Regions from separate parts of the Homo sapiens genome. Here region 1 is linked to region 2. Evidence: fine-mapped QTL for protein levels in blood plasma. Region 2 holds a variant in brackets. A gene starts in the other region. All regions are shown on their reverse strands. Region 1 holds the start of CCL17 (C-C motif chemokine ligand 17). Region 2 holds the start of PLCL2-AS1 (PLCL2 antisense RNA 1).

The links. PIP is the chance, under the fine-mapping model, that this variant and not a neighbour inherited with it causes the effect. The UK Biobank Pharma Proteomics Project read protein levels with antibody pairs (Olink). The fine-mapping took linkage between variants from a reference panel, not from the people measured, so its PIPs are less certain.
Region 1: it holds the start of CCL17, and the variant in region 2 is fine-mapped to the plasma level of the CCL17 protein (UK Biobank, PIP above 0.99).

Annotation. Positions count from the first base shown.
Region 1 is chr16:57,394,293-57,409,015 of GRCh38, reverse strand. CCL17 (C-C motif chemokine ligand 17) reads right to left here and starts at 4,249. Exons shown (of 4, transcript NM_002987.3): 1 at 4,180-4,249. RefSeq lists an enhancer at 8,547-8,596.
Region 2 is chr3:17,040,592-17,056,074 of GRCh38, reverse strand. It overlaps PLCL2 (phospholipase C like 2), which reads right to left. Exons shown (of 6, transcript NM_001144382.2): 4 at 13,126-13,201. PLCL2-AS1 (PLCL2 antisense RNA 1) reads left to right here and starts at 1,491. Exons shown (of 3, transcript NR_046640.1): 1 at 1,491-1,549; 2 at 11,887-12,021; 3 at 13,162-13,323. RefSeq lists an enhancer at 1,466-1,655. The variant T/C (reference allele first, on the strand shown) is at 6,775.

The DNA of each region.
Region 1 (14,723 bases), not on the chromosome of region 2:
TTTATTAGGCCAGTTTGGTGGCTCACACCTGTAATTCCAATACTTTCGGAGGCAGAGGCAGGTGGATCACTTGAGCCCAGGAGTTCAAGACAAGCCTGGGCAACATGGTGAAACCCTGTCTCTACAAAAAATGCAAAAAAATGACCAGGCGCAGTGGCTCACATCTGTAATCCCAGCACTTTGGGAGGCTGAGGCAGGCGGATCACAAGGTCAGGAGATCGAGACCATCCTGGCCAACATGGTGAAACCCTGTCTCTACTAAAAATACAAAAAAAAAAAATTAGCTGGGTGTGGTGGCGTGTGCCTGTAATCCCAGCTGCTCGGGAGGCTGAGGCAGGAGAATCGCTTGAACCCGGGAGGTGGAGATTGCAGTGAGCCGAGATCACACCACTGCACTCCCTCCTGGGCAATATAGTGAGACTCCATCTCGAAAAAAAAAAATAGCCAGGTGTTACAGTGTGCACCTGTCCCAGCTACTCTGGAGGCCGAGTAGGGAGGATCACCTACATCAGGAAAGTTGAGGCTGCAGTGAGCCATGATTGTACCACTGCACTCCAGCCTGGGCGACAGAGTGAGACCCTGTCTCAAAAAATATATATATGTTTACTGAATGTATAAATAGGTGAGTGGTTGTATGGATGGGTGAATGAATGAATGGGTGAATGGATATGGATGGGTAAATGAGTGAATGGATGGATGGAGGATGGATGATGGATGGACGTGTGGGTGAGTGATGAATGGATGAGTGGCTGGAAGGTGGATGAAAGAATGGACGGATGGATGGATGGTAGATAAATGGATGGGTGGATGTGTGTATGGATGATGGATAGATGGATTGGTGGATGGATGGTGAAAGGATAAATAGATAGATGGATGGGTAGATGAATGGATGGATAGATGGATGGGTAGATGAATGGATAAATGGATGGGTAGATGGATGGATGGTAGATGGATGTGTGGATGGATGGCAAAAGAATAAATAGATGGATGGATGGGTAGATGGATGGATGGAGGGATGGATGGAAGAATGGATGGATAGATGGATGGATGGTAGATGGATGTGTGGACGGATGGTGAGAGAATAAATAGATAGATGGATGGGTAGATGAATGGATGAACGGATGGGTAGATGGATGTGTAGATGGATGGTAAAAGAATAAATGGATGGATGGGTAGATGAATGAATGAATGGATGGACAGACGGATGGATGAATGGATGGATACATGAATGGATGAATGAATGGGTGGATGGATGGATGGATGGATGATGGATGGATGGAAGGATGGATGAATGGGTTGATGGATGATGGATGGATGCATGAAACTGGATGGGTGAGCAGATGGATGGACTGATGGATGGGTGGGTGTATGTGTAGATGTATGGCTAGATAGATGGATGTGTGGTTGGATGGATGAATAGAAGTATGGGTGCATGGCTTGATAGATGATGAATGGATATATACATGCATGAATGCATGGATAGATGGATGGTCACTTAGAGATTCTGAACTACAACATGGGCCCAACTCACATTCTATCCCAGGGCCTCCTTCATCCAAATAGTTTTTAAACCAGTGTGTACCATCATTTCATGAGACACACCCGAATCCTTCTGTCATGGATAAAGCAGAGGAATCTAACCAAGGACACCCTGACTCCTCCCCCATCTAGTTTACAACTTCCTTGTGGTTGTGGCCATTTTTTGCCAAACCTATATTGCTTCAACTGTGGCTTGGATCTCAACCTTTATTCATCCCAGAGGGGCCTCCTTCCCTCAGTTGCACTGCCATCTTCTAGCTCTTTACTGTCTCCAATCCCATGACCCCCTTTCCCTCTGCTGACAACATGATCCTGTCTCTCCACTTCCATAAAGACCTCCCCTTGACTTCAACACCCTCGCATGCTGCCCTCCCATTTCTCCTTTCATTCATGACCAAACTGCTCCGATGTGTGGTCTGTACTTCCCTCTACCATTTCCTCTCTGCCCACTTGTGATTTAATTAATCCTCAGCAATGTGGCTTCCAGCTCTGATGCTCTAGGAAAGGTGCTCTCACTGAGCCTCTTGATCCCCTCCAGCCACTCCCTGAACCTCCCACTGCCTTACATTGGGCAGTGATTACCAGCAGAGGCTCTGGAATCATTACCTACAGCCCTGAGTCCCAGTCACTCTTCTACTTGTTCCTGGTTGTGTGACTAACAGCGATTTTATGAACTTCAGTTTTCTCATCTGTGAAATGGGTGTGATGATAAGACACTCCCTCATGGTATGACCTGGAAAACTAACTGAGATGAAGTCTATAAAGTTCCTAGTCTCCAGCTGGCTCAGGGAATCGCCTTGTCATCCCTGGGAACCTACCATCCTTCTTGATGCTCCTCCCACTGGGATTTGGGACATGGTTCTTCCCTGAGCTCCCTGTGAGCTCCTCTTCTCAGAAATGTCCCTGAGCTCTCACTATAGGCTGGGGTGGGTGTTGGGGCAGGGGAATCTCAGCAGTTAAGTCTATTAGTTTACTTTGTCCTCACAACAGCTTCAGGGAGTAAGAACTATTAGTTTCTACAGATGAGAAAATTAGGAACTGACCAGAGTAGTTTAAGCAACTGGTCCACTGTAATCCCAGCACTTTGGGAGGCTGAGGTGGGAAGATCGCTTGAGCCCAGGAGTCTGAGACCAGCCTGGGCAACATAGTGAGACTCTGTCTCTACAAAAAAAATAAAATGAAAATTAGCCAATCATGGTGGTGCACGACTGAGCCATGACTGTGGCACTGCGCTCCAGCCTGGGCAAAAGAGCAAGATTCCATTTCAACAACAACAAAATAAATCTGCTTCATGGGCACAGAGCTAGCTGGTGGCAGGAGCAAGCCTGGGCTTCTGTCCTAGACTTTGTTTTTGCCTCAAGCAACCTTCCCTTCCTCCCTGACATCATCTACCCCAGATCTTTTACCTCTGGATAAAGACTTCTTTTTTTTTTTTGAGACGGAGTCTTGCTCTTTCGCCCAGGCTGGACTGCAGCAGCGCTATCTCGGCTTACTGCAAGCTCCACCTCCCGGGTTCACGCCATTCTCCTGCCTCAGCCTCCCAAGTAGCTGGGACTACAGGCGCCCGCCACCATGCCCGGCTAATTTTTTTTTTTTTTTGTATTTTTAGTAGAGACGGGGTTTCACCGTGTTAGCCAGGATGGTCTCGATCTCCTGATCTCGTGATCCACCTGCCTCGGCCTCCCAAAGTGCTGGGATTACAGGCGTGAGCCACCGCACCTGGCCTGATAAATACTTCTTAAATCTCTGTCTCCAGCCCTGACCAGTAACTAATCAGACACACCCACCTGGACACTCCTCCTTCCGGCCCATCTTTCTGTGGCACCCCTCAGCTCTCTCTGCCTTGCAGCCTGGCCAGCTCTGTGCAGTTCTGTCCCCCACACTAACCTGTGAGCTGCTGGGAAGCAGAAGTCTGTCCTGCTATGGTTCACTCAGCCCCAGGTACCAGAAGGGCAAAACCGAGTTCCCTCTCACACCAGCCTCCTTTTTTTCTGTTCAAGCCAGCATTGTTTCCCATCTCCCCATCTGCCCCCAAGTCTGAAACTTTGCCCTTGACTCATTCCTCGCCTCCATCCCCCACATTACATCAGGCAGAGACTCTGCCCAGCGCTGTCTTCAGTGGGAGCTTGGCTTCCTTGCTTCCTTCTCATCTCCACTGGCTCAGCCCTCATCCTTCACACCCAGAGAGTCTCAAAAACTTCTGGGCCTATTTCTTCCTCTCTGGTCTCTCCTGACACCTCCCTCATCAGCTGCATGCCCACATGTGGTGGATCTTTCACAAGGGCTGCCCTGACCATGTAATGCCCCCTTCCTCCAAAACCGTCAATGGCTCCCTGCTTCCTTCCCCATCCAGTCAAAACTTTTCAGGCCAATCTTGAAGCTGTACCTTCCATCTAGCCCCTCCTTCCTATTCAGTCTCATCTCCCTGCTCCCCAACATTGAGCTTTCTTGAGGGCCAGTGCGTCCCCTCACTTTGTGACTTGGTTTGCTGCTTCCAAACTCCTGTCCCCTTCTTGTATGGATTATCTTCCCTTGATCCAAAGTCCATCCACCGCTCATCTAACACATGCCCTGAAAGATCCAGCGAGGGGGTCACCTCACAGTGGAGGGGTTAGGAGCAAAGACTCTAGGTCAGGTCACCTGGTTTTGAATTCAGCTCTCCCATCAGCAGGCGGTGACACTGTGAGCTCAAAGTCACTTCTCTCTGAGCCTCAGTTTCTACAGCTGCAAAATGAAAATAATAACAATAATTACATTAGAAGGCTTTGGTTTGCATCAACTGCCTTACTGCTTATATCTGGCAAATAGTACACGTTTCTGACTTTAAATATCATCTATATGCCAACCACTCCCAAGTTTCTCTCGCAAACTCCAGCCTCCTTCTACGTCCAGCTGCCTACTCGCCATACCAAATAGGCAGCTCCAACCCCCCAAGTCTGAAGCTGAATTTCTGATTCCCACCCACCCCTACACCTGCTCTCTCCTCCTTCTCTGCCAGCCCCTTCCTTCCGGTTACTAGGGCCAGAAACCTGGGCGCTATCCCTGACGCCTCTTCCTCTCGCCCCCAACTTCCCATCTGTTGGGTGAGCTCATGTCTCTGCTTTCCAAATACACCCAGAAACCAGCATCAATCCCTGGCTTCCTACAACTGCCTTCTGGGTGCTCTCCCTGTCTCCATCCTTGCCCCCTACAGTGTATTCTCAGCACAGCAGCAGAGGGACCATGAATCTCCCGTGTTCAGAACGTCCCCGTGGCTCTCCACCTCACGCAGAGGACAAGTCCAAGACCCTCCAGCAGCCACGAGGCCCCGCGAGTTCTGTGCCCTGCTCTCTGCCCACCTGTATCTCCTGGTTCCCTGGTTCACTCTGCCCCAGCCACCCTGGCCTCCTCCCTATGCCTCAAACCAACCAGACAGACATGCTCCTTCCTGAGGAGGTTTGCACGGACTGTTCTTTCAGCCTGGAATGTTGTCCCCAGATACCTGCAGGACTCACTCCTTCACCTTTTTCAAACTTTTTTAGGCCGGGCGTGGTGGCTCACGCCTGTAATCCCAGCACTTTGGGAGGCCGAGGCAGGTGGATCACTTGAAGTCAGGGGTTCGAGACCAGCCTGGCCAACATGGTGAAATCCCATCTCTACTAAAAATACAAAAATCAGCTGAGCGTGGTGGCAGGTGCCTGTAGTCCCAGGTACTTGGGAGGCTGAGGCAGGAGAATCACTTGAACCCAGGAGGCAGAGGTTGCAGTGAGCCAAGATCACACCACTACACTCCAGCCTGGGCAACAGAGCAAGACTCTATCTCAAAAAATATATATATATATATATTATATATATTTATAATATATATAATATATATTATAAATATATATTATATATATTATAAATATATATTATATATATTATAAATATATATTATATATATATAAAATATATATTTATAATATATATAACATATATATAATATAATATATATATTATAATATATATATTATTATATAATATATATAATATAATATATATTATAATATAATATATATATTATAATATATATTATAATATAATATATATATTATAATATATATATTATATATAATATATGTTATATATATTATAATATATATATTATATATATTATAGATAATAATATATATTATATATATTATAGATAATAATATATATTATATATATTATAGATAATAATATATATTATATATATTATAGATAATAATATATATTATATATATTATAGATAATAATATATATTATATATATTATAGATAATAATATATATTATATATATTATAGATAATAATATATATTATATATATTATAGATAATAATATATATTATATATATTATAAATATATATATGTATTTGTTTAGATTACATCTTTCAGTGAAGTCAAATTGCATGCCATCCCCATCTCTTCCTCTGCTCTTTTTTTTTTTTTTTTTTGCTGAAATGCTTATATCCTCTGACATGCTAGGCCATTCGCTTACTTATGTCTGCTGTTTACTATCTGTCTCCCACCTGTACCCCCACCCCCATCCTACTGGGATGTAAGTTGCATGGGACAGAGGTTTCTGTTTCTTTTCTTTAATGGAATATATCTCGGCACATGGTAGGCCTTCAATACATAGTTTTTGGATTAAGTGAGTGAATGGATAAATGGCTGGTGTTGTTCCTGAAGCAGAATGCAGAAACCCTTCTTGTTACTCTCACTCTTACCAATGGACTTGTCTCAATGTCTCTCTGATGCCTGGGCTCCAGGACTTCTGAGCTTCCACTCAAGCCTTGTAAATGAGTGCCTTTTATTCATTGCTAGAGTCTGACTCTCTTTCCAAGGAACATCTGTCCCTGTTTCCAAGCTACTTCAAAGGCAGGTCTATGGTCCCCTGATGACATTGGGAAAATTTGAGGTTCACCCCTCAGGGTGTAGTGACAGAAGTCACTGAGAACTCAGAAGTCCTCTGCTCCTAGTCTGGCAGCCTGCCTGCAGTCGGGGTGGGGGGATTGTCCTGCCAAACTCGACCCTCTGGGCACCCGAGGAAGATCTGTTCAGCACCAGGGTCAGTGACAAGCACCCAGCATCCTGGGAAGAAGCCTCACACCCTTTCCAAGGAGCCTGGTGGATCTGGCCTCTTTGAAAGGCCTTGGGAATCTCAGCCACTGCAAAAGCCAGCAGGGAATGGGGTCACGACTCAACAGCATTTGGAGATTTGACACGTCGCACAATGCCACCTGGGTCATGGCTCTCCCCAGGGGAGGCTGAGGGTATTGGGAAGGGCTGTGGCCACTTCTGAGCAAGCCCCAGACCTGGGAAGCAGGAGTCCCTAGAGAGCCCTTTGCAGGGAAGAACCAGCACCTCAGCTGCCCTCTGAGCTGTGGCTGTCCCTCTGCACTGTGGGGCTTTCGCCTGAACCACACTTGGCTAACAATAGGGTCCCCCTTCCTTTCTGCCTTGCCTGGGCTCTGCTCTCTCAGCTTATGGGTGACTGGGCTCTCTCCACTGTCTCAGGTTGAGTTCATTAAGGATGTGCTCCTTGGGGAAGTGGAGGGAAAGTTGGGGAGTGAAGACAGAGAAGGAGTGGAAACCCAGCAAGGGTGTGACCTCAGGTGACGTCCCCGGGGGGCAGCTTCAGCCAGATTCCTTGGAGGGGCACAGGAGAGTGATTGAAAGTAAAATCAACCAAAAGGAGTGGGGCCTGGGTAGGGCATCAGCGTTGCTAACCACACTACTGTACCCACCACCAGGTTAACAGATGTATTACCACGTCACTGAGCCCCGCTTTCCTCCCCTAATCACAGCCTCTATGCACTAGAGGAACAGAATTTGGCAGCCATTAGTCCCACGCATTTCTTCACAGCTCACTAACTCATATGTGTGTATGTCCTTAAGCAATATATAGCATTGTTCATGCACATTTCTTTTTTTCTTTTTTTTTTTTTTTCCAGACAGAGTCTTGCTCTGTTTCCCAAGCTGGACTGCAGTGGTGTGATCTTGTCTCACTGCAACCTCTACCTCCAGGGTTCAAGCGACTCTCCCACCTCAGCCTCCTGAGTAGCTGGGATTATAGGGGTGCACTGCCATGCCCAGCTAATTTTTGTATTTTTAGTAGAGACGGGGTTCCACCATCTTGGCCAGGCTGGTCTCAAACTCCTGACCTCAGATGATCCTCCTGCCTTGGCCTCCCAAAGTGCTAGGATTACAGGCGTGAGCCACCACACCGGGCCTGTTCATGCTCATTTCTAAGCTTTATATCGACACCATCATCTTGTATCTATACTTCCACATCTTGCGGCATCACACCTGACAGTGTCATTTGTGTTGATATATGCCAAATGTATAGTTCTTTCTTTTCATCATTGTATGCTATTCTATACACCAACTATACCACAATTTACAAAAAGAAGAAGAAGAAGAAGAAGAAGGGTGTCTGGAGTGAGGCTGCCTGCTGGCTTAGTTACTAAGTGCGTGGCTTTGGGTAAGTTTCTTTTTTTTTTTTTGAGATGGGGTCTCGCTCTTGTCACCCAGGCTGGAGTGCAATGGCATGGTCTCGACTCACTGCAACTTCTGTCTCCAGGATCAAGTGATTCCCCTTCCTCAGCCTCCCAAGTAGCTGGGATTACAGGCACACGCCACCAAGCATGGCTGATTTTTGTAGTTTTAGTAGAGATGGGGTTTCACCATGCTGGCCAGGCTGGTCTGGAACTCCTGACCGCAGGTGATCCACCCCGGTTGGCCTCCCAAAGTGCTGGGATTACAGGCATGAGCCATTGTGCCCGGCCCGGGTAAATTTCTGAATCTCTCTGTGCCTTTGCATTCCCATCTGGAAAATGAGGCTCAGATGGAAACCAGCCCAATGCTCCCATACACTGTTCTTTGGACAAACATGGAAATTGACCCTTCTGGTCTTAAAGCTTGAAACTTATATTTGCTTTATCTGGGTTCCTTCTGCAAGGAATGACCATTGGGCCTCTCAAAAAAAAAAAAAGTGTCAAAGAACTGAAACCCACCAGATTACTGTACCAGATACCAGACCCCCTCATTCACCATGATTGCTTCATTGCCCCTGTCTAGTTCCTGTTTTCTTTTATATTTTATAATTTTTTTTTTGAGACGGAGTCTCGCTCTGTTGCCCAGGCTGGAGTGCAGTGGCGCAATATCAGCTCACTGCAAGCTCCGCCTCTCGGGTTCACGCCATTCTCCTAGCTCAGCCTCCCAAGTAGCTGAGATTACAGGCGCCCGCCACTACTCCCAGCTAATTTTTTGTATTTTTAGTAGAGATAGGGTTTCACCGCGTTAGCCAGGATGGTCTCGATCTCCTGACCTCGTGATCCGCCCACCTCCGCCTCCCAAAGTGCTGGGATTACAGGCGTGAGCCACCGCGTCCTGCCAGTTCCTGTTTTCTTATACATTGTTACATTTCTTCTCTGCTGTATAAACTCCTGGTTTTAGTCAATCAGGGAGATGGATTTCAGACTGAGCTCCCATCTGCTTGGTTGCAGCACTCGATTAAAGTCTTCCTTGGCAATACTTGGTGTCTCAGTGATTGGCTTTCTGTGTGGGGAGCAGCAGGACCTAGACTGCACCCATGGTGTTTTGGTAACACTATGAGCACGAGCTCATCTTTGAGCTGTGACAGGGATGACAATGAGAAAATGCATCCAAAGGCTCACAGGGATATCATGTGGACAGTGAACCTCATGAGAAGAAGGTCCATGTCAGGCCAGGAGCAGTGGCTTACGCCTGTAATACCAACACTTGGGAGGCCAAGGGGGCAGATCACCTGAGGTCAGGTGTTCAAGACCAGCCTGGCCAACATGGTGAAACCCCATCTCTACTAAAAATAAAAAATTAGCTGGGCAAGGTGGCACACACCTGTAGTCCCAGCTACTTTGGAGGCTGAAGCAGAAGAATCGCTTGAACCTAGGAGGCAGAGGTTGCAGTGAGCCAAGATCCCACCTTTGCACTCCAGCCTGGGCGACAGAGCAAGATTCCTTCTCCAAAAATAAAAAAAATAAATAAGTAAAAAAAAGAAGGTCAATGTCTTATTGATCAGCATCTCTGGCAATAAACTAATGACTCCTTTCCTCCACCTCTCCCCAGGCCACCACTGCTGTTGCCCTGGTGGTTACCTACCCCTGACACTCTAGAAAGAGGGCCCCAGCCATGTGGATGGGATTTCTCCTTCATTGATCTGATGGTGGTCGTGGCAATGTATAAGCACCTGGAAACAGGTCAGACAGGTCCAGGTGAGAACCAGGGGTGGGGAGAAGGGGAGGCCCAGGAAAACATCCAGGTGGCAGAAGCTCTGGCACTCAGAGAGTCCTGATGCAAGATCTTAGACTCATCAATGAGGCAGTAATTCCTCTATATCCAGCTGTACCCAACCCCTACACCCTACTCTCAAATACCAGAGGAAGCAGAATTGTTCACTGTTCTGGACCTCAAGGATGGCTTCTTCTGCATTCCCCTGCACTCTGACTCCCAGTTTCTCTTTGCCTTTGAGGATCCCACAGACCACACATCCCAACTTACATGGACGGTCTTGCCTCAAGGTTTAGGGATAGCTCTCATCTGTTTGGTCAGGCACTGGCCCAAGATCTCGGCCACTTCTCAAGTTCAGGGACTCTGGTCCTTCAGTATGTGGATGATTTACTTTTGGCTACCAGTTTGGAAGCCTCATGCCAGCAGGCTACTCTAGATATCTTGAACTTTCTAGCTAATCAAGGGTACAAGGCATCTAAATTGAAGGCCCAGCTCTGCCTACAACAAGTCAAATATCTAGGCCTAATCTTAGCCAGAGGAACCAGGGCCCTCAGCAAAGAATGAATACAGCCTATACTGGCTTATCCTCACCCTAAGACATTAAAACAGTTGCAGGGGTTCCTTGGGATCACTGGCTTTTGCCAACTATGGATCCCCAGATACAGCGAGATGGCCAAGCCTCTCTATACTCTAATCAAGGAGACCCAGAGGGCCATCTAGTAGAATGGGAACCAGAGGCAGAAACAGCCTTCAAAACCTTAAAGCAGGCCCTAGTACAAGCTCCAGCCTTAAGCCTTCCCAGAGGACAAAACTTCTCTTTACACATCACAGAGAGAGTGGGAATAGCTCTTGGAGTCCTTACTCAGACTCGAGGAATAACCCCACAACCAGTGGCATACCTAAGTAAGGAAATTGATGTAGTAGCTAAAGGCTGGCCTCACTGTTTATGGGTAGTTGCGGTGGTGGCCATGTTAGTATCAGAGGCTATCAAAATAATACAAGGAAAGGATTTCACCATCTGGACTACTCATGATGTAAATGGCATACTAGGTGCCAAAAGAAATTTATGGCTATCAGACAACCATCTGCTTAGATACCAGGTGCTACTCCTTGAGGGACCGGTGCTTCAAATATGCACCTGTGCGGCCCTCAGCCCTGCTACTTTTCTCCCAGAGGATGGGGAACCAATTGAGCATGACTGCCAACAAATTGCAGCCCAGACTTATGCCACCCAAGAGGATCTCTTGGAAGTCCCCTTAGCTAATCCTGACCTTAACCTATATGCTGATGGAAGTTCATTTGCGGAGAATGGGATACAAAGGGCAGGTTATGCCATAGTTACTGATGTAACAGTACTTGAAAGTAAGCCTTTTCCCCTAGGGACCAGCGCCCAGTTACCAGAACTAGTGGCACTTACCCAAGCCTTAGAACTGGGAAAGGAAAAAAAGAATAAATGTGTACACAGATAGCAAGTGTGCTTATCTAATCCTACATGCCCATGCTGCAATATGGAAAGAAAGGGAGTTCCTAACCTCTGGGGGAGCTCCCATTAAATACCACAAGAAAATCATGGAGTTATCGCATGCAGTGCAAGACCCCAAGGAAGTGGCAGTCTTACACTGCTGAAGCCATCAAAAAGGTGAAGGAGAAAAGGCAGAAGGAAACCGTCAGGCAGACGCTGAGGTCAAAATTGCTGCCAGGTGGAAACTCCCATTAGAAATACCTAGAGAAGGACCCTTGGTATGGAACAACCCTCTCCAAGAGATTAAGCCCCAGTATTCCCTGACTGAAACAGAATGGGGACTTTCATGGGGGCATAGTTTTCTCCCCTCGGGATGGTTAACGACAGAAGAGGGCAGCCAGTGGAAAATACTTAAGACCCTCCACCAAAGTTTTCATATGGGTATTGAGAACACTCATCAAATGGCCAAATCCCTATTTACAGGGCCAAATCTCCTCCGGACCATCCGACAAGTAGTCAAAGCCTGTGATGTGTGCCAAAGGCATAATCCCTTGGCCCATCGTAAGGCCCCTCTGGGACAACAAAGAATAGGGCACCATCCCAGAGAGGACTGGCAGTTAGACGTCTCTCATATGCCTAAGTCAAGGGGATTTCAATACTTGTTAGTCTGTGTTGAAACCTTTACAAATTGGATAGAAGCCTTCCCTTGCAAGACAGAGAAGGATCAGGAAGTGGTTAAAGTCCTAATTCATGAAATAATTCCTAGATTTGGGCTTCCCCAAAGCTTCGCAATCCAGCTTTTACACTCTTACATTTCCAACCTAACCTATTACACAAGCAATGAAAAAACCATACATGGCCCTGCAACCACGAATACTGTCTTAACTTTCCAAGCCCCTTTATGCATCCAATGCAACCTGTTATCAGGACTGCCCCTGGGGCACCTACTATCCCATCAGTGTAATTACACCCTACAACTTCAAGCCCCAACTGATCACAGTAACTTCCGACTCACCCAAACAGCTCCATTCAGATGGCTTGTCCGCTTCTCAGAGCCTCCAAAAATCATCACCTCCTTCCTGCTTAACAAACAGTCTAGGTTTAATAATGGCAAACATACTCCCTGCATGACCATTCACCCCTGGACCCCCTGCAGCAGCGCCCCCACCACTAGTGAATGCCTTCTCATCCCCTATTTCAATCACTCTCTTGAATGGTTCCTAGTAGATACAAAACGATTTTTTCTCCAATGGTAAAATAGAACACAGGGAGCCACTCAGTTTGCTCCCAACACTCCTTTCCAGCCGCTCACTGGAGCTACCTTGGCAAGTACTCTAGGAGTATGGGAAAATGAAAACAACAAACTCACACACCTTTTTAACATACACAACCAGTTCTGTGTACCCAGCCAAGGCATATTCTTCTTATGTGGAACTTCAACCTATATCTGCCTCCCCACCAACTGGACAGGCACCTGCACCTTAGTCTTCCTAAGTCCCAACATTGACATTGCCCCAGGAAATCAGACCCTATCAGTGCACCTCAAAGCTCAAGTCTGTCAGTGCAGAGCAATACAACTAATACCCCTACTTATAGGGTTAGGAATGGCCACTGTTACAGGAACCAGAATAGCCAGTGTATCTACTTCATTATCCTACTACCACACACTCTCTAAGATAGTTTGCAAGAAATAACAAAATCTATCCTTACTCTACAGTCCCAAATAGACTCTTTGGCAGCAGTGACTCTCCAAAACCACTGAGGCCTAGACCTCCTCACTGCTGAGAAAGGAGGACTCTGTACCTTCTTAGGGGAAGAGTGTTGTTTTTACAGTAACCTGTCAGGGATAGTATGAGACACCACCCGGTGTTTACAGGAAAAGGCTTCTGAAATCAGACAATGCCTTTCAAACTCTTATACCCACTTCTGGAGTTGGGCGACATGCTTCTCCCTTTTCTAGGTCCCGTGACAGCCATCTTGCTATTATTTGCCTTCGGGCCCTGTATTTTTGACCTCCTTGTCAAATTTGTTTCCTCCAGGATTGAGGCCATCAAGCTATAGATGGTTTTAAAAATGGAACCCCAAATGAGCTCAACTAACAACTTCTACCGAGGACCCCTGGATCGACCCACTGGCCCTTTGGCCCAGAGAGTTCCCCTCTGGAGGACACTACCACTGCAGGGCCCCTTCTTTGTCCCTATCCAGCAGGAAGTAGCTAGAGCAGTCATTACCCAATTCTCAACAGCAGTTGGGGTGTCCTGTTTAGAGCGGGGATTGAGAGGTAAAGCCAGCTGGACTTCCTGGGTCGAGTGGGGACTTGGAGAACTTTTCTGTCCAGCAAGAGGAATGTAAAACGCACCAATCAGCACTCTGTAGCTAGGATTGCAAAATGCACCAATCAGCGCTCTGCAGCTAGCAAGGGGATTGTAAAATGCACCAATCAGCACTCTGTAAAAATGCACTAATCAGCACTCTGTAGCTAGCAAGTGGATTATAAAATGCCACAATCAGCGCTCTGTAACAACGTACCAATCAGTGCTCTGTAGCTAGCAAGAGGATTGTAAAATGCACCAATCAGCACTCTGTAAAATGCACCAATCAGCAATCTGTAAAACACACCAATTGGCAGGATTCTAAAAGTAGCCAATCGTGGGGAGGATTGAAAAAAAGAGCACTCTGATAGGACAGAAATGGAACATGGGTGGGGCCAATAAGAGACTAAATGCTGCCCACCCCCAGCCAGCGGCGGCAACCTGCTTGGGTCCCCTTCCATGCTATGGAAGCTTTGTCCTTTTGCTCTTCACAGTAAACCTTGCTACCACTCACTCTTTGGGTCCGTGCCATCTTTAAGAGCTGTAGCACTCACTGCGAAGGTCAGCGGCTTCATTATTGAAGTCAGCGAGACCATGAACCCACTGGCAGGAACCAACTGGAGACACACTGAGACTCCAGAGCTTCTAGATTCTCCCTTGCCTCCTCACTCCTCTGGAGAGATTGGGCGACAAGCAGGGTGTGACCCAGTCCAGGCTTCCTGGGGATTCTGGCCTGCCTGGGGACAATGTCTTGACCGGGATGTGCTGGTGATTGCATAACCACAGGACCAGCTCAAACTAGTTTACCATTGCTTGAGTTGTTACAGATGGCACGGAGCCAAAACTGCATGTCATGTAGCCTGGCCCGGTGCAATCAGAGAAAACTTCCACCTCCTGAGAGTTAGCACCACCAACGTGGCAACCGGCCACATTGGCATCCCTGGGACTAGTTAACAGTGCCATAACAACTTGACCCACCCAGGGATCAGGGAGGCAGATTTGAGTGTTGTCTCCTGTCTCCTTGCCAGGTGACTTGGAATAAAGCTTTTTCTTTTCGCAAAAGTGGTGCTATAATATTGGCTTCTACTCACATCGGGCAGCAAGTCCATTACTTTGTAACAATTGGAGGATTCGAGG
Region 2 (15,483 bases):
GACTCCATGGGTTTACGAAGGAAGGAGGGAGGAAGATGTGACAAGAGAGCACAGTGTTGGGATTTAATCACAGAACAGGTACCCCGGGAAGGGCAAGTGTCCCCAAAACTTCCCTCCCCTTCATTTGTGGCACTGGGGAAATGTCACTGGTGAAAGCTATGTTCTATGCTGCTCTAGAAAGATAATTTTGCTGTCATTCAATCACACAGCTGGTGCATGCCTGAGTCTGAGCAGTCACTCACACTCTCCCTGTGAGAGACAGAGGAGAGAGGCTTAGGGAAAGAGCATGAACTCAGAAGAGGGCCTGCTCTGCTCTACCCTCAAAAGAGAAGTTCTCAAAACCTGAATGTGCTCACCACAATGCAAATTCCTGAGTCTCACTCCCAGATGGTCAATATTTTGGGAATGATGTAAAGAGACTGCATTTTCAACAAGCATTCCCAGGGGATTCTGATCACACGTATGAAAAATAACATTCGTGTGAAAGTTGATGTGGGAATCCTTCTTTTCTTTGCATGACTCTGTGAATATATGATGTGGGAATCTTAGAGCAGAATTAGGGTGAAGGTTACAGGGACGGTTGAGGTGTGGTGAGACAGCGGTTTCTAGAGACCAGTTGCTTATTTTGAAGTTTTTGCTCTGAATGAGTTGGCCTAGTTGTTGTCTTTGTGGTCATTTCCTCTGCCATCCCTTATCAGTGATGAAGGTCCTTAGTGAGGGAATTAAAATGAGAAAGAGGCCACTGAGGACCTTGCTACTTCTCTTCTTCCCTTGACTTCACTAATTATTAGTTAATTAATTAGTAAATGCCTAAAAGAAGATGTGGTGGTTCAATATCCAGTCTTTAAGAGAAAAGATGCTGTGGATTTCAAATGGGGCCTGGGAGTCTGATGCAGGTTTCCTGTGTCTCATCTTCAAAGTGTTAACTTTCCTCCTTGAAAGTAATGATGATGGGCTACAATTTATGTGTCCTGTAACATTGTATGGGATGACTTGTTTAATCTTTTAATCTTTTTCAGTAACTGTAATCCAGCCATTCCCAAATTGCTGTTTATGTAACTGATCTTAGTTCACTGTAATTTAGAAGGCATAGGGCCATCAGGGAATCACATAATCCACTGCCACTTAGAAGAAGGAAAATGAGGCAGAGAGGGTCAAGTGACTAAACTAAAGTCACACAGCAGGGACATGGTACAGAGGGCACCAGAACATGGGTCTCTCAATTCCCAGGAAAGAACCTTTCACTTCTGTAAAACAGAGCTGAGAAACATTCTGACATAAATGAGAACTGATACGATTTGGATCTGTGTCTCCATCCAAATCTCATGTTGAAATATAATCCCCAGTGCTGGAGGTGGGTCCTGGTGGGAGGTAATTGGATCATGGGGGTAGCATTCTCATAAATGGTTTAGCACCATCCCCCCTTGGTAGTATATAGTAAGTTCTCAAGAGATCTGGTTGTTTAAAAATGTATGGCACCTCCCCACTCTCTTTCTCCTGCTTGGGCCATGTGAAGATGACTGCTCCTGCTTTGCCTTCCACCATGACTGTAAGTTTCCTGAAGCCTCATAAAACAGAAACTGATACTGAGAAGCAGGGCATTGCTTGAAGATGTGAAAGCAGCTTTGGAACTGGTAATGGGCAAAAGTTGGAACAGTTTGGAGAGCTCAGAAAAAGACAGGAAGATGAGGGAAAGTTTGGAACTTCCTAGAGACTTGTTAAATTGTTGTGACCAAAATACTGATAGTGACATGGACAATGAAGTCCAGGCTCAGGAGGTCTCAGATGGAAATGAGGAACTTATTGGGAACTGGAGTAGAGGTCACTTTTGCTATGCTTTAGCAAAGAGCCTGGCTGCACTGTATCCCTGCTCTAGGGATCTGTGGAACCTTGAACTTGAGAGTGATGATTTAGGATATCTGGCAGAAGAAATTCCTAAGCAGCAAAGTGTTCAAGATGTAGCCTGGCTGCTTCTAACAACCTATGCTCATATGCACAGGAAGAGAAATGACCTGAAACTGGAATTTATATTTAACAGGGAAACAGAGCATAAAAGTTGGAAAAATTTGCAGCCTGGCCATGTGGTAGAAAAGAAAAGCCCATTTTCAGAGGAGGAATTCAAGCAGGCTGCAGAAATTTTATAACTAAAAGGCAAATACTAATAGTCAGGACAATGGGGAAAAGGCCTGAAAAGTATTTCAGAGACCTTCCTGACAGCCCCTCCTATCACAGACCTGAGGCCTAGGCAGGAAGAATGGTTTCATGGACCAGGTCCAGGGCCCAGCTGCTCTGTACAGCCCCTGGACACTGCTCCCTGTAGTCCCTTTCTTTTGGCTGATTTCTCCCTTTCGAAACGGGATTATTTACTCAATCCCTATATCCCCATTGTAACTTGGAAGTAAGTAACTTGTTCTGATTTTACAGGCTTATAGGTGGAAGGGACTTGCCTTGTTCAGATCAAACTTTGGACTTTTGAGTTAATGCTGGAATGAGTTAAGACTTTGGGGGATTATTGGGAAGGGATGATTGTATTTTGAAATGTGAGAAGGACATGAGATCTGGGAGGGGCCAGGGCAGAATAAATGGTTTGAATCTGTGTCTCCACCCAAATCTAATGTTGAAACATAACCCCCAGTGCTAGAGGTGGGGCCTGGTGGGAGGTGACTGAATCATGGGGCAGAGTTCTCATGAATGGTTCAACACCATCCCCCCTTTTGAGTTCTCATGAGATCTGGTTGTTTAAAAGAGCGCATCACCTCCTCCAACCCTCCTGCTCCAGCCATGTAAGATGGGCCTGCTTCTCCTTCACCTTCTGCCATGATTGTAAGTTTCCTGAGACCTACACAGAAGCTGAGAAGATGCCAGCATCATGCTTCCTGTACAGCCTGTGGAACCATGAGCCAATTAAGCATGAGCCCATTTCTTTCTAAATTACCCAGTCTCAGTTATTTCTTTATAGCAGTACGAGAACAGACTAATACAAAACAAAAAGTTATAAGGCTCTCAGGTTTCCATTTGCAAATATAATTGACCCTTCAACAACAGGGGTGTTAGGGGCATTGACTCTGCATGCAGTCAAAAATCTGCATGTAACTTTTGACTCCCCAAAAAGTTTACTAATAATAGCCTACTTTGGACCTGATGGATGCTTTACTGGTAACATAAACAGTTGATTAACACATATTTTGTATATGATATGTATTATGTACTATATTCTTACAATAAGGTAAGATAAAGAAAAGAAAACATTAAGAAAATCACGAGGAAGAGAAAATGTATTTACTATTTATCACGTGGAAGTGGATCATCACAAAGGTCTTCATCCTCATCATCTTCTAGCAGAGTAGGCTAAGGAGAAGGAAGGAGAGAAGGGGTTGGTCTTGCTGTCTCAGAGGTGGCAGAGGCAGAAGAGGTGGAGGAGGCAGAAGGAAAGGCAGGGGAGGCAGGCACACTCAGTGTAACTTTACAGCAATGCATTGCAATTTCTGTCTTTTTTGCTTTTTCACTTCTCTAAAAATGCTTCCATACAGTACCAGTACTTCTTCCACTTTTTGCTTTAGTTTCAGTGCCAGTATCATCAGGAGGATCTTTGTCATAAAAGAAGTCATAAGCAGTCTTGAATAATAGGAACCCTTCTTCCAGATTGTCTGATATCAATTTGTTTGGGGGCACTGCTTCTTCTACATATTCTTCATTGTCTGGCACTGGTTTGGAAGCACTCATCTCCGTCAAGTTATCTTCTGTTAATTCCTCTGGTGTGGTGTCCATGAGCTCTTGATTTTCTCCAAAATCCATAACCTGAGACCTTCACCCCCCCCCAATTTTTTTTTTTTTTTTTGCCATATTCACAATCTATTTCATGATTTCTTTCAGCAGCTCTGTTATAAATCGTGTGAACATCTGGACGGTTTTCTCCAGCAGGAATTTATTGTTTTGGACTCGATGACTTTCATGGATTTTTCTGTAGCAACAATGGTATCTTCAACAGGATTTTGAATCCTTCTAAACATGTATGATGTCCTCTCTATTGGGGGTTCTCTTCCACAGCATTAATAATCCTTTCCATATAGCATCCTCTGTAATGAGCCTTAAAGGTACTTATGACCCTTTAATCTACATGCTGACTTGGAGACATTGTGCTTGGGGGAAAAGAGACCATTTCATGGCTTTCAGTGTTGAACTCATGGGGTTCTGGGTGACCAAGGGCATTGTCCAATATCAAAAGAAAATTAAAAGGCATTCCCTTACTGGCAAGGTACTTCCTGACTTCAGGAACAAAGCATCATGAAACTAATATAGAAGAAGCTCTTGTTGTTCAGGCCTCCATGTTGTACAACCAAAAGACTGGCAGCTGGTGTTTATCTTTCCCCTTTAAGGCTTGGGCATTAGCAGCTTTATAGATGGGGGCAGTCCTGACCATAAACCTGACTGCATCTGCACAAAACAGTAGAGTTAGCCTATCCTTTCCTGCCCTAAATCCTGCTGTTTGCTTCTCTTCCTTACTAACAATTCTCCACTGTGACTTTTTTTTCCCCCCAGAACAGGGTACTTTCAGCTTCATTAAACACCTGTTCAGGCAGATATCCTTTCTCCTCAATGGTTTTTTTAAATTTTATTTTTATTTTAAATTTTTATAGGTGCATAGCAGGTATATATACTTATGGGGTACGTGACATGTTTTGATACAGGCATGTAATGCATAATAATGGAAAATGGAATATCTATCCACTTAATAAGCATTTATCATTTGTGTTACAAACAATCCTATAATACTCTTCATTGTTTTAAAATGTACAATAAAATTATTAATGACTACAGCACCCCTGTTGCGCTATCAAATACTAGGTCTTACTCGTTCTTCCTAACTTTTATTTTTTGGTACGCATTAACCATCCCCACCTCCCCCGCCCTGACCTCCCATTGCCTTTCCCAGCCTCGGGTAACCATCTTTCCATTCTCTATCTCCATTAAGTTCAATTGTTTTGATTTTTAGATTCCAAAAATAATTGGGAACATGTGATGTTTGTCTTTCTGTGCTTGGCTTATTCCACTTAACATAATGACTTCCAGTTCCATCCATGTTGCAAATGATAGGATCTCATTCTTTTCCATGGCTGAATAGCACTCCATTGTGTATAAGTATCACACACAATATCCATTCAACTGTTGGTAGATGCTTAGGTTGCTTCCACATCTTGGCTAGTGTGAACAATGCTGCAAAAAACATGGGAGTGCAGGTATCTCTTTGATATACTGATTTCCTTTCTTTTGGGTATACATGCAGCAGTGGGATTGCTCGATCATATGGTAGCTCTATTTTTAGTTTTTTTGAGGAACCTTCAAACTGCTCTCCATAATGGTTGTACTAATTTACATTCCCACCAACAATGTATGAGGGTTCCCTTTTCTCCACAGCCTCGCCAGAATTTGTTATTGACTGACTTTTGGATAAAAGCCATTTTAACTGCAGTGAGATGATATCTCATTTAGTTTTGATTTGCATTTGTCTGAGGATCAATGATATTGAGCACCTTTTCATATGCCTGTTTTTCATTTGTATGTCTTCTTTTGAGAAATTCCTATTAAACATTTTGCCCATTTTAAAATTGGATTATTAGACTTTTTTTCCTACAGAGTTGTTTGAGCTCCTTATATACTCGGGTTATTAATTCCTTGTCCCATTCAGTGTGTTATTTCTCCATTTTGTTGTTTGTTTCCTTTACTGTGTGGAAGCCTTTTAACTTGATGTGATCCCATTTGTTCATTTTTGCTTTGGTTGCCTGTGCTTGTAGGGTATTACTCAAGAAATCGTTGCCTAATCCAATGCCTGGAAAGTTTCCCCAATGTTTTCTTGCAGTAGTTTCACAGTTTGATGTCACAGATTTAAATTTTGATTTGATTTCTGTATAAGGAGAGAGATAGGGGTCCAGTTTCATTCTTCTGCATATGGATATCCCGTTTTCCCTGCACGATTTACTGAAGACACTGTGTTTTCCCCACTGTATAATCTTGACACCCTTGTCAAAATGAGTTCATTGTAGGTGTGTGGATTTCTTTCTGGGTTCTCTATTCTGTTCCATTGGTCTATGTGTCTGCTTTTATACCATTATCATGCGATTTTGATTACTATAATTCTGCAGTATTATTTGAAGGCAGGTAATATGATTCCTCCAGTATTGTTCTTTTTGCTCCAGATAGCTTTGAATATTCTGGGTCTTTAGGGGTTCCATATAAATGTTAGGATTTTTTTTTTCAATTTCCATGAAGAATGTCACTGGAATTTTGATAGCGATTGTATTGAATCTGTATATTGCTTTGGGTAGTATGGACATTTTAACAATATTGATTCTTCCAATCCATGAACATGAAATATCTTTCCATTTTTTTATGTGTGCCCTCTTTAATTTCTTTCATTAGTGTTTTATAGTTTTCATTAATAGAGATGTTTCACTTCTTTAAGTTAATTCCTAGGTATTTAATTTTATTTGGGGCTATTTTAAGTGGGATTACTTTTTAAATTTCCTTTTCAAATTGTTCACTGTTGGCATATAGAAATGCTACTGATTTTTGCATGCTGATTTTGTATCCTACAGCTTTACTGCATTTGTTTATCAGTTCTAACAGATTTTTGGTGGAGTCTTTAGGCTTTTCCAAACATAAGATCATATTATCTGCAAACAAGGATAATTTGACTCAATGATTTTCTTAATGGCATCTGGGAACTTGTCTGCTGCCTGCTGGTTGACAGAAGCTGCTTCGCCTATTACCTTGACA[T/C]TTTTTAAGCCAAACCTCTTTCTAAAATTATCAAACCATCCTTTGCTGGCATTAAATTCTCTAGCTTTGGATCCTTTACTTTAAATTGTCATATAATGACTTCACTTTTTTTTAAATCATATTAGTCTATAGGTGTGCCTTTTGTATAGCAATCCTGTACCCACCTAAAAGCTGTATTTTCAATGTGAGATAAAAAAAAACTTTGCACAAGAAGTGCAAGGTTTTCGTACCTGCTGGTATGGCTGCAAAAATAGCTTCATGAATTTTCTTTTCTTTTTTTTTAGAACAGTCCTTATGCTGGATTTCTTTATCCTGAAATAGCAGTCAACTGCAGACCTCAATCTATGGTATATACTAAGCAATTCAACTCTTTCTTGTAATGTCATGACTCTTCTCTGCTTCTTGGGAGCACTTACAGTATCACCAGTGGCACTTCATATAGGTCCCATGGTGTTACTTAAGGTTTATGGTATTGCACTAAACATGATGAATAATATGCCGTAACTGTGAGAGATCACTTTTTACTGTGAATGCAACTTACTGGAATGATAAACTGCTCAGTCAGAGATGATTAGCATCACACAGCGTTTTAAGCAGATACTCCCAACACTTGAGCTCAGCACAACAGCAACAGGAGGTGGCTATGAAATTATTACAGTAGCAAAGTATGTTTTGGAGTTAATTTTAGCAGTTATGAGTTAATAGTGCATCTTACATTGTTTACATTTTTCTTAACTGTGAAAGACGTCATGTATGGGCTTTAAGTGTGTGCATAAGTTTTGATAAATTTTAACCTTTTATAACAGATTTGTGCATATTTTATGGCAGTAAATGATAAAATAGACTAGTACCTACATATATTTTATGCATTTGTGGCCTTTTTCTTAAATTTTTTGATATTTCCATGCTACATGGTTCATCTGTCTTTTTTCAAATTGTTGCCAACCTCCAAAAAATGTTTCAGTATATTTATTGAAAAAACTCACATATATGTGGACCCATGCTGTTCAAACTTGTGTTGTCCAAGGGTCAACTGTATTTTCAAACAGAACACTTGTTAAGTGCTTTCAGAATGAATCTCGCAGATGATTTTCTTTACTATGTTGGGCAAGATGATGTGCATGAACCAAGTGACAGGTGGTGATGGCTTACTTATCTGATAACCTCAGCTCCTAGGAGCACACTGAGATCTGAGGAGTTTGAAAAAAAAAAAAAAGTCTCTGAGCAATTAAATCCAGGTCATGTAGGTCTGGCCTGACATTCTGCTGGTTTTCCCCATGCAGGAGTGTGTCGGGGCCTCATCCTCTTTTATGTAAGATAAATCGCTTGGTCACAGGGGAGACATCAACTGCTCAGCAGACTGGAAGCAGCAAATGTAAGAGAAAAAAAGAGCAGTATACAAACAGACAGTTGGAAATACAGTACAAAGCAGTAGGAAGTGAGAGTTTAATGAAAGGAGATGGAATTTAACTATTAACACCATGTCCAGATCTGAACAGTCACAGCAGGCAGGCTGCTGTGTGTGCAGGTTAAGGGGCCTCCAAACTTAAAGCCTCCAAGAAATCACTGCATTAAACTGCAGCATCTCAAGATGACCCTGGGTCTTTAAAACAAATGTTCAAATTATTTTTGGCAAATCAAATTTAAGAAAGCAGGGATGGATAAGATCCACTGAAAATTTCCCATTAAATTGATTAAAATGAAGGGTAATTAAAGCTTTTATTATTTGGAAAGTTATTTTCTTTGATCCCACTTTACTCAGTGAAGATGCAACCCTGGCCATGCATGAAAATACGCTGGAGCTTTTAGCAAAGAACCTTCCATTTAAAGAGGTGTGGAGAGGGCTGGGTCATCTTTCATTTAGTTTGATCCTCCCTCCTAACAGTCATTCTGAAAGTGCACAGAACAGATTCTCCTGCTCTCATCCTCCCAGGCATGCAGGCATCACCTCTGCCTGAGGCATGCCCATGAAAGCAGGGAAGCCAGCAGGTGTCCTATGCGGGCTCTTTGCGCCTCTGCAACCTAACACTCTCCCAGGCCTTGTGGGTGTGGGATCACATCTTTGGGAACATCCTCAGTTCCTGTGGCAGCTTTTGCCCCTTGATTCCTTCCTTCTTTTTTCTTCGAATTTAGTTTTTATTTTTGCTAGAATTATGCATGTACGTAAAGAACCAAATAATTGTCCACAATTCTCCCTCCCCAGAAGCAGTCACATTCAATGCCTTTAGCTGATTGTTTCCCTTCCTTAGTATTTATGTTCATATTTCCAAGTAACATGCTTATATTGTTTACTTAGAACTGTTTTTCAAGCATCACCTATTAAATTCCCCATATGGAGAATGAGAATTTTGCTATTTTTAACCTCCCCACTGTCAGGACACAGAGATCTAAGCGTTAATTAATCCAGCTTCTACACAGTTCCTGTCTTTTATAACTAGCTTTAACCCAGTTCCCAGAGGTACCTGGTCACCAGGTTAGATCTGAGCTGGTGGTTGGCCTGTGAGTCAGGCTGTGTCAGGCCCCCCAAGACCAGCTTCAGATTGAGGTTCCTGAGTGGGCAGCTAAGCCAATTATCACTTGTTCAGCTGTTACTCAGTTTCTAGAATTTTGTTGCTCCCGATTTCTTTGTCCTTATGGATTTGTGGCTTAAAGAAAAACCCTCTACTGTCATTTTAATGAGGTTTTAGAGTAGAGATTAAAAGCATTTGTTAATTCACCATCTTTAACAGGATGTCATTGATTTGTTTTTTTCCTCCTCCAGAGAACAATTTATTTTCCATTTAAAATTACCTGATAGAAACACCTAGCTCACTGAGGGAAAGCATTTGGGTTTCCTTCTTGATCGTCTTCCTATCCTTTATTAAGCATACCAATTCAGTGACTAGAAAGGAAATTATAATCCAAAAATGGGCTGCAGTTTTGGCATTTAAAGAGACAAAAACATAGATATTAGAAAGCGGAAAAGACTTTGGCCCTGATATTAGAAAGTGGAAAAGACTTTGGCCCTGAAAGAATTTGACAAATCTTTTCCCAACTTTTATACATTTCTAACAAATGAACTTTTATGATGTTTCTCCCTCTGCAGACTCCTGTTCAGCTCTCCTGCTGGTGTTCCTTACCAATCTCCTACTTGAGAACATGTATGCATGTGTTCGCCTGGGCTTATGAATTATAGAGACCCATTCTTGCATGGCCACATCACTTCTCACTCCCATGGCGGCCCAGACTCACGCATCCCATATCACCCCTGCAGGATCTGATATTTAATCAGTCCCTTTGACTGGCACTGCTGATCTCTGACTCTGAGCAAAGTCCCCATACTCTTGCCCCTGTCTTGAATCCCCGCTTTCACTTCCTCACCCCCAAAGTTGGTGTTCTCCTATGACACTACTTCCCTGTTTACCTCGTCAATGGAAAACACTCCTCTCTTTTTCAGAATTTTTCTAAATGTCACGGCTTTCTGTATTATCTCAGACGAGGAGCCTTTCTCCCTTTCTGAGGTCAAGTGTTTCATGACTGTACTTCATTCCTGACCTCACATCCTTCATCCTGAATCTCTGTCTCATCTATTAATGTCTTCCTCTTCACTGGGTCGTTTATATACTCCTAGCAACATGGTTTTATTATTAAAATTTCTCTTTTACCCCAACTCTCTGTGTCACTGCATTCTCTTCTTAACAGAGAGGACTATGCAGGCAGGCTGCCTCCAACTGCGCATCTCCGAGTTGTTTCCACTGCTCTTTCCATGGTCCCTTTGGGTCCTCCACTGCTGGGATGCATAGGTTCCTAGCCTACCTTGGTTGGAGGTCTTCACTTCTCAGCATTCCTCTCCTGCCACGCTTCCTCTTCCCAGTACTAACATCAGCATAGCATGTTCCTATGTAAAAAATAGATTACACAGCCAAGAGCCTGAACCCTTCTGAACTGGGGACATTTTTTAACATGTGTTTGGGGGTGGATGTCTGACTCTTTATTTCCACTCAGTTATTTAAACAAGGTTTTAACTAATAAAAATATATGTTTGTGCTTTAAAATTCGAAATACATCTAAAATAATCCTCTCTTGCAGCACTTTGGTGACCTATATCTGTTGGCAAGCAGAATAACAATTACTTATCAAAAGTAAGATCTTATGCAACTGTCTTTGAGCCCAAAACAAATTAGCAATTCTTCATATGACTAATGACTATATGTCCTTACCATAATTGTAAACATGAGAAACAAAAGATCAAGGGACTCTAAAATAAGTACTTGGGATAACAGAAGGGCTGTGTAGGCGTTCATCAGTAACTGTGAAACCAAAAGATAATCTTTACACGCTTCTAAAGATCTTTAAACCCAGAGCAACTTGAACCATTACACAGTGGTTATTCTCCCCCCATCCTAATCAAAATCCCTAATAGATAAGATTCTTCAGCTTTTTAAGTACAAGCACATGTATCCCTTACTGAAATCAAACATAAACAGAAAGCCACATTATACTGAAAATTATCAAATCTCATAAACCAGTGAATTGACAATAACTCAAATTGTTGAATAGTTTTTTTTCTGATAAACAGTTTTTTTCAAATTCCACAAAGTCCACAATTTTCATAGCAATACATGCATTGAATGGAATCAAATAATTAAAATAAAATCATATTTAGTTAATATTTGGGCAACTACTCTGTGCAGAATGTTAGAACAGATGTCATGGGTAAGATACAGAGAGCAGCTTGATATATAATCTTAGTGCTTTAGGAGGTTATTATCCTGTTTACAAGATGGAATGCATTAATAAAATACACAATAACTGAAGAAGCCCTACCAACTGAAGCAAATTAAAGGTTTAAAGGGCTGAATAGAATGCTTTAGGTAACATAAATCCTGGAATCTTGAAAGGTCTCCCAGAAGACTGTTGAGATAATTGAAAAAGAAGAAAGTACAGATTGGCAGAGAGGGCAGAGAAAGAAGTCTCAGCAGATGAGTGATGTGTGCAAATCTGATTAAGTAGAAACACAGGGAATGGGGACAGGCAGCCCAAAGCAGAGGGTAGATGGCTCACCATCCCTTCCCTTCCTCCCTCACTCTCCAGAAGCACCTTCCTTATCTATTGCCAACTGCCTCCCATCAGGTCTGCCCATGGACATTCTCTGCACACAGCTATTATGGTCAGTACCTGAAAGCTCAGTCCCTCTCCTGTTCTACACAAACACCAATGTCTCCCCAGTGCCTCACACACCAACTTGAGACTCCTGAGTAACACACGGTAAGTATTCAATATATTTACTGTGTTTACTTCCATATCTCCTGTTCAATAATTTGCAGATTGTGTTAATAATTTGTAGATTGTGTTGTAGATAAAAATTGTGTTTGAATAATTAAATGTAGATTGTAGGGAGAGTTAGCCTGCAAAGGACTAGAAGTAGAAAGACCACTTTGCTAACAATATTTGCTGACAAGATGAGTAAAACAAGATGGGGATTGTGGAGTTTGTTGATTAGTCACTAATATGAATACTCTTTCAATAGATATTAGAAAAAAAATGTCACACATATCCTTATCTTCAATCTATTTTAAACAAGTTCATTTCTGAGATAAGGGATTTTTTTTTTCAGGGTAGGCAATATAGTTTCTTGGTTTTAAAGAACAGCAACGAAAAAAACCTTAGAAAGTCAGGACAATTTTTTTTTTTTATGACTTGAAAATATTCTCCATAATAGAATCTCCCAAATCAACACTCAAAAAATCAGAAAATTAAAAGAACTCCATTTTGTGTATTTTTATTACAATGCAGAATACTGAATTTTTTGGTTTTACCACAGCTAAAATTAATGGGATGATTGTTTATATAAGAAGAATTTTATAGTCTGGTATAACATTTGGATGTTAAATTAATGAATTTATCAGCACGCGAAAATGCCAGTGTACTAAAAAGTGTCAGGAGGTTGTAACTGGAATCCATCTCCTTTACAAGAAGCCATTCTCCCTCTACTCAAGCCTTACCTATCCTACTGTGTACCAGAGTCACGGGTGACCAGCAGGAGCTTTGGCAACACAGTTAACACTGAAGAAGAGATTAGTGCAGAGTTTCTCAATTTTGGCTGTACATTAGAAACACCTGGGAATTTAAAATAGTTATTAATTCCCAGCCCCATACCTCAGACCAATGTTAATGTATTTTGAATGGTCCCCTCAGGTGAGTTTGTTACCCAAGGCTGAGAACCACTGAATTGGTATTTTCTTTAGCCATAGAAAAATAATTTTCTTATTTGATTTTCTTGATATAGCATCCAAAAAATGAAATAGTTTTGGGGCAAAGTATATGATGCTATTAATTTCATTTAAAGAGAGGAAACAAACTTTCACTTACCTGCCTTCTGACAATGTACGATCTTTTCATATACAGCATCTGCATTTTCAATCAACGCCTTGAGGGACTGAATCATCTGCAAAGGGAACATCCAGACATGAGATTACACCTGACAACTAGATCCCCTCCTGCATTCATGCACAAGGCTCTTCTCCTAAAACAGGCTGATGTGATGATATTAAACGCTTTTTTATCTGACTTTCCACTACTCAACTTCAAATGTGCATGTGAAAATGATAACATCACACATCCCCACATAATGGTTAAAACAAGATGTGAATAGTATTACTTTCCAAGTGCAGTGAGGCTAGTACAACACTGCACTTGAACCCTGAGCTAATATACTGAACTGAGTTCATTTCAGCGTGAAAAGCTACAAATATGCGTGCAAATCTGATCTGAGTTTTAAAATTTGGTTATCCATTTTAACAAAATTTTCAACTTCATCTTATAGAAAACTTCAACACCTACACACTTCACTCATTTCAGCCAAAATGTCTTCATCTGAAATTCAGTTTAAAACATACAATGAGAATTAAAAAATAGCATTTATTTATTTGATACCATTCATCACTAATAGTACCTCTAAAACTAGTATTTTTATGTTCCTATTAATGGTTTTTAAAATGTTCAAATTTGAATTCTTGTTCCAAATTGCATGTGCTTGTTTTAAGAGCCCAAGCTTGAAGAAGGGAAAGAATCAGTGAACAGCTGATCCATTATTTTACTCACCAAAAAGCTAGGAAAAGATCCCTCTGAAGTAATCTTGTTGGCTCTAAAATCACTATGAAAAGGAAATGGGATAGCCAGAAACAAGTCTCATGGCTCAAATGGGTACAATTATGATATCTACCTTAGTATAAATTTTACATATTTGTATTTAAATATCCAAATATTTTGCATTATAATATTACTCATCTATTTTACATGACCATCATATTTTAAGTAATAAACACCCAACCATTCCTTTCATTTCTGCCTCATTTTTTTTCTTTTTATTTTTTTAAGAGACACGGTCTGTTCTGTCAGCCAGGCTGGAGTGCAGTGGTGCAATCATAGCTCAGTGCACTCTCCAACTCCTAGGCACAAGTAATCCTCCAGCCTCCATCTCCCAGGTAGCTGGGACTACAGGTGTGTGCCACCATGCTTGGCTAATTTTTAAAATTTTCTGTAGAGATGGGATCTTGCTATGTTGCCCAGGCTGGTCTTACACTCCTAGGCTCAAGTGATCTTCCCACCTCGGCCTCCCAAGTGCTGGCATTACAGGCATAAGCCACCGCACCTGGCCTGCCTTATTTTTCTTTATAGCATTTATCACTAATTGCCATAGTAATTATCTTATAGTAACTAAATATATGCAGGTTGGATTATTTGCATAATTCAAAAACCACCATATTTTTGGTAAGTTACACTTATTTAAAATATAACCAACATGTCTCTTAAAAAGTGTACTAGCTTCTTAAGCTTAGTCAGATAGTATTTATCAACTTGCACAGTTCTAAAAAAATGGTAAACATCAAAAGTTTAAAGGCCAAGGCAGGCATTTATTTACGCCTTCATAATGTATCTTTAATCATCGCTGGGGTCTACTGCAGGCAGCCCCTGTGTGGAAACCAGGGATACCTGACCTACAGGATACAACCCCTGTCCTCAAGAAGTCCACAGCCTATGGCAGAGTTTGCACTTTGGAATTCAGTATTTTCACATTCATTCTTCAAGATCTGAGTCATTCCCATAAATTAAAATATTCTATTTTACAGCTTGACGTATTGAACAGGCAGCAATAAAAATGAATCGTTAAGAACTTTATTATACTGATATAAAGTCGTTTGTACCATTACATAATTTGCATATTGAAAAGGTCCATACCGTCATCAGTAACCTTTTTCAGCTTTGATGTCAAGCCAAATGAGAGATACAAAGAAGCAAGGACTTCTTCAAGCAAGGATGGTGATTGTTACAGCTCAGTATCAAAGAACTGGCCAACTGTGCCCCCATCATTCAAATAGGAGAAGGAAAAAAAAATATGATCAAGGAAATGAACCCAGTCATTAAACAAATGAGGACAGGAGCAAAAGCAGGAGTGGAGGAGAACAAAACAGCAGCATTAAGCAGAGGCTCACACATGCAGATGAGAAACTCATCTTGGGAGTGGTGTAGCGGCAGAAACAGCAAAGATTTACATGGGTTCTAATCCTGGTTCTATTACTCATTAGCTTTGTCATCTAGGACAAGATATTTAACCTCATAACCCTAATTTCCTACCCATAAAATAAGCTTATTAAAGACATTACACCTCATAATGTGAGGATTAAATGAAAGGATGTGTGAGGAGCGACTGGCACAATGAAGACACTT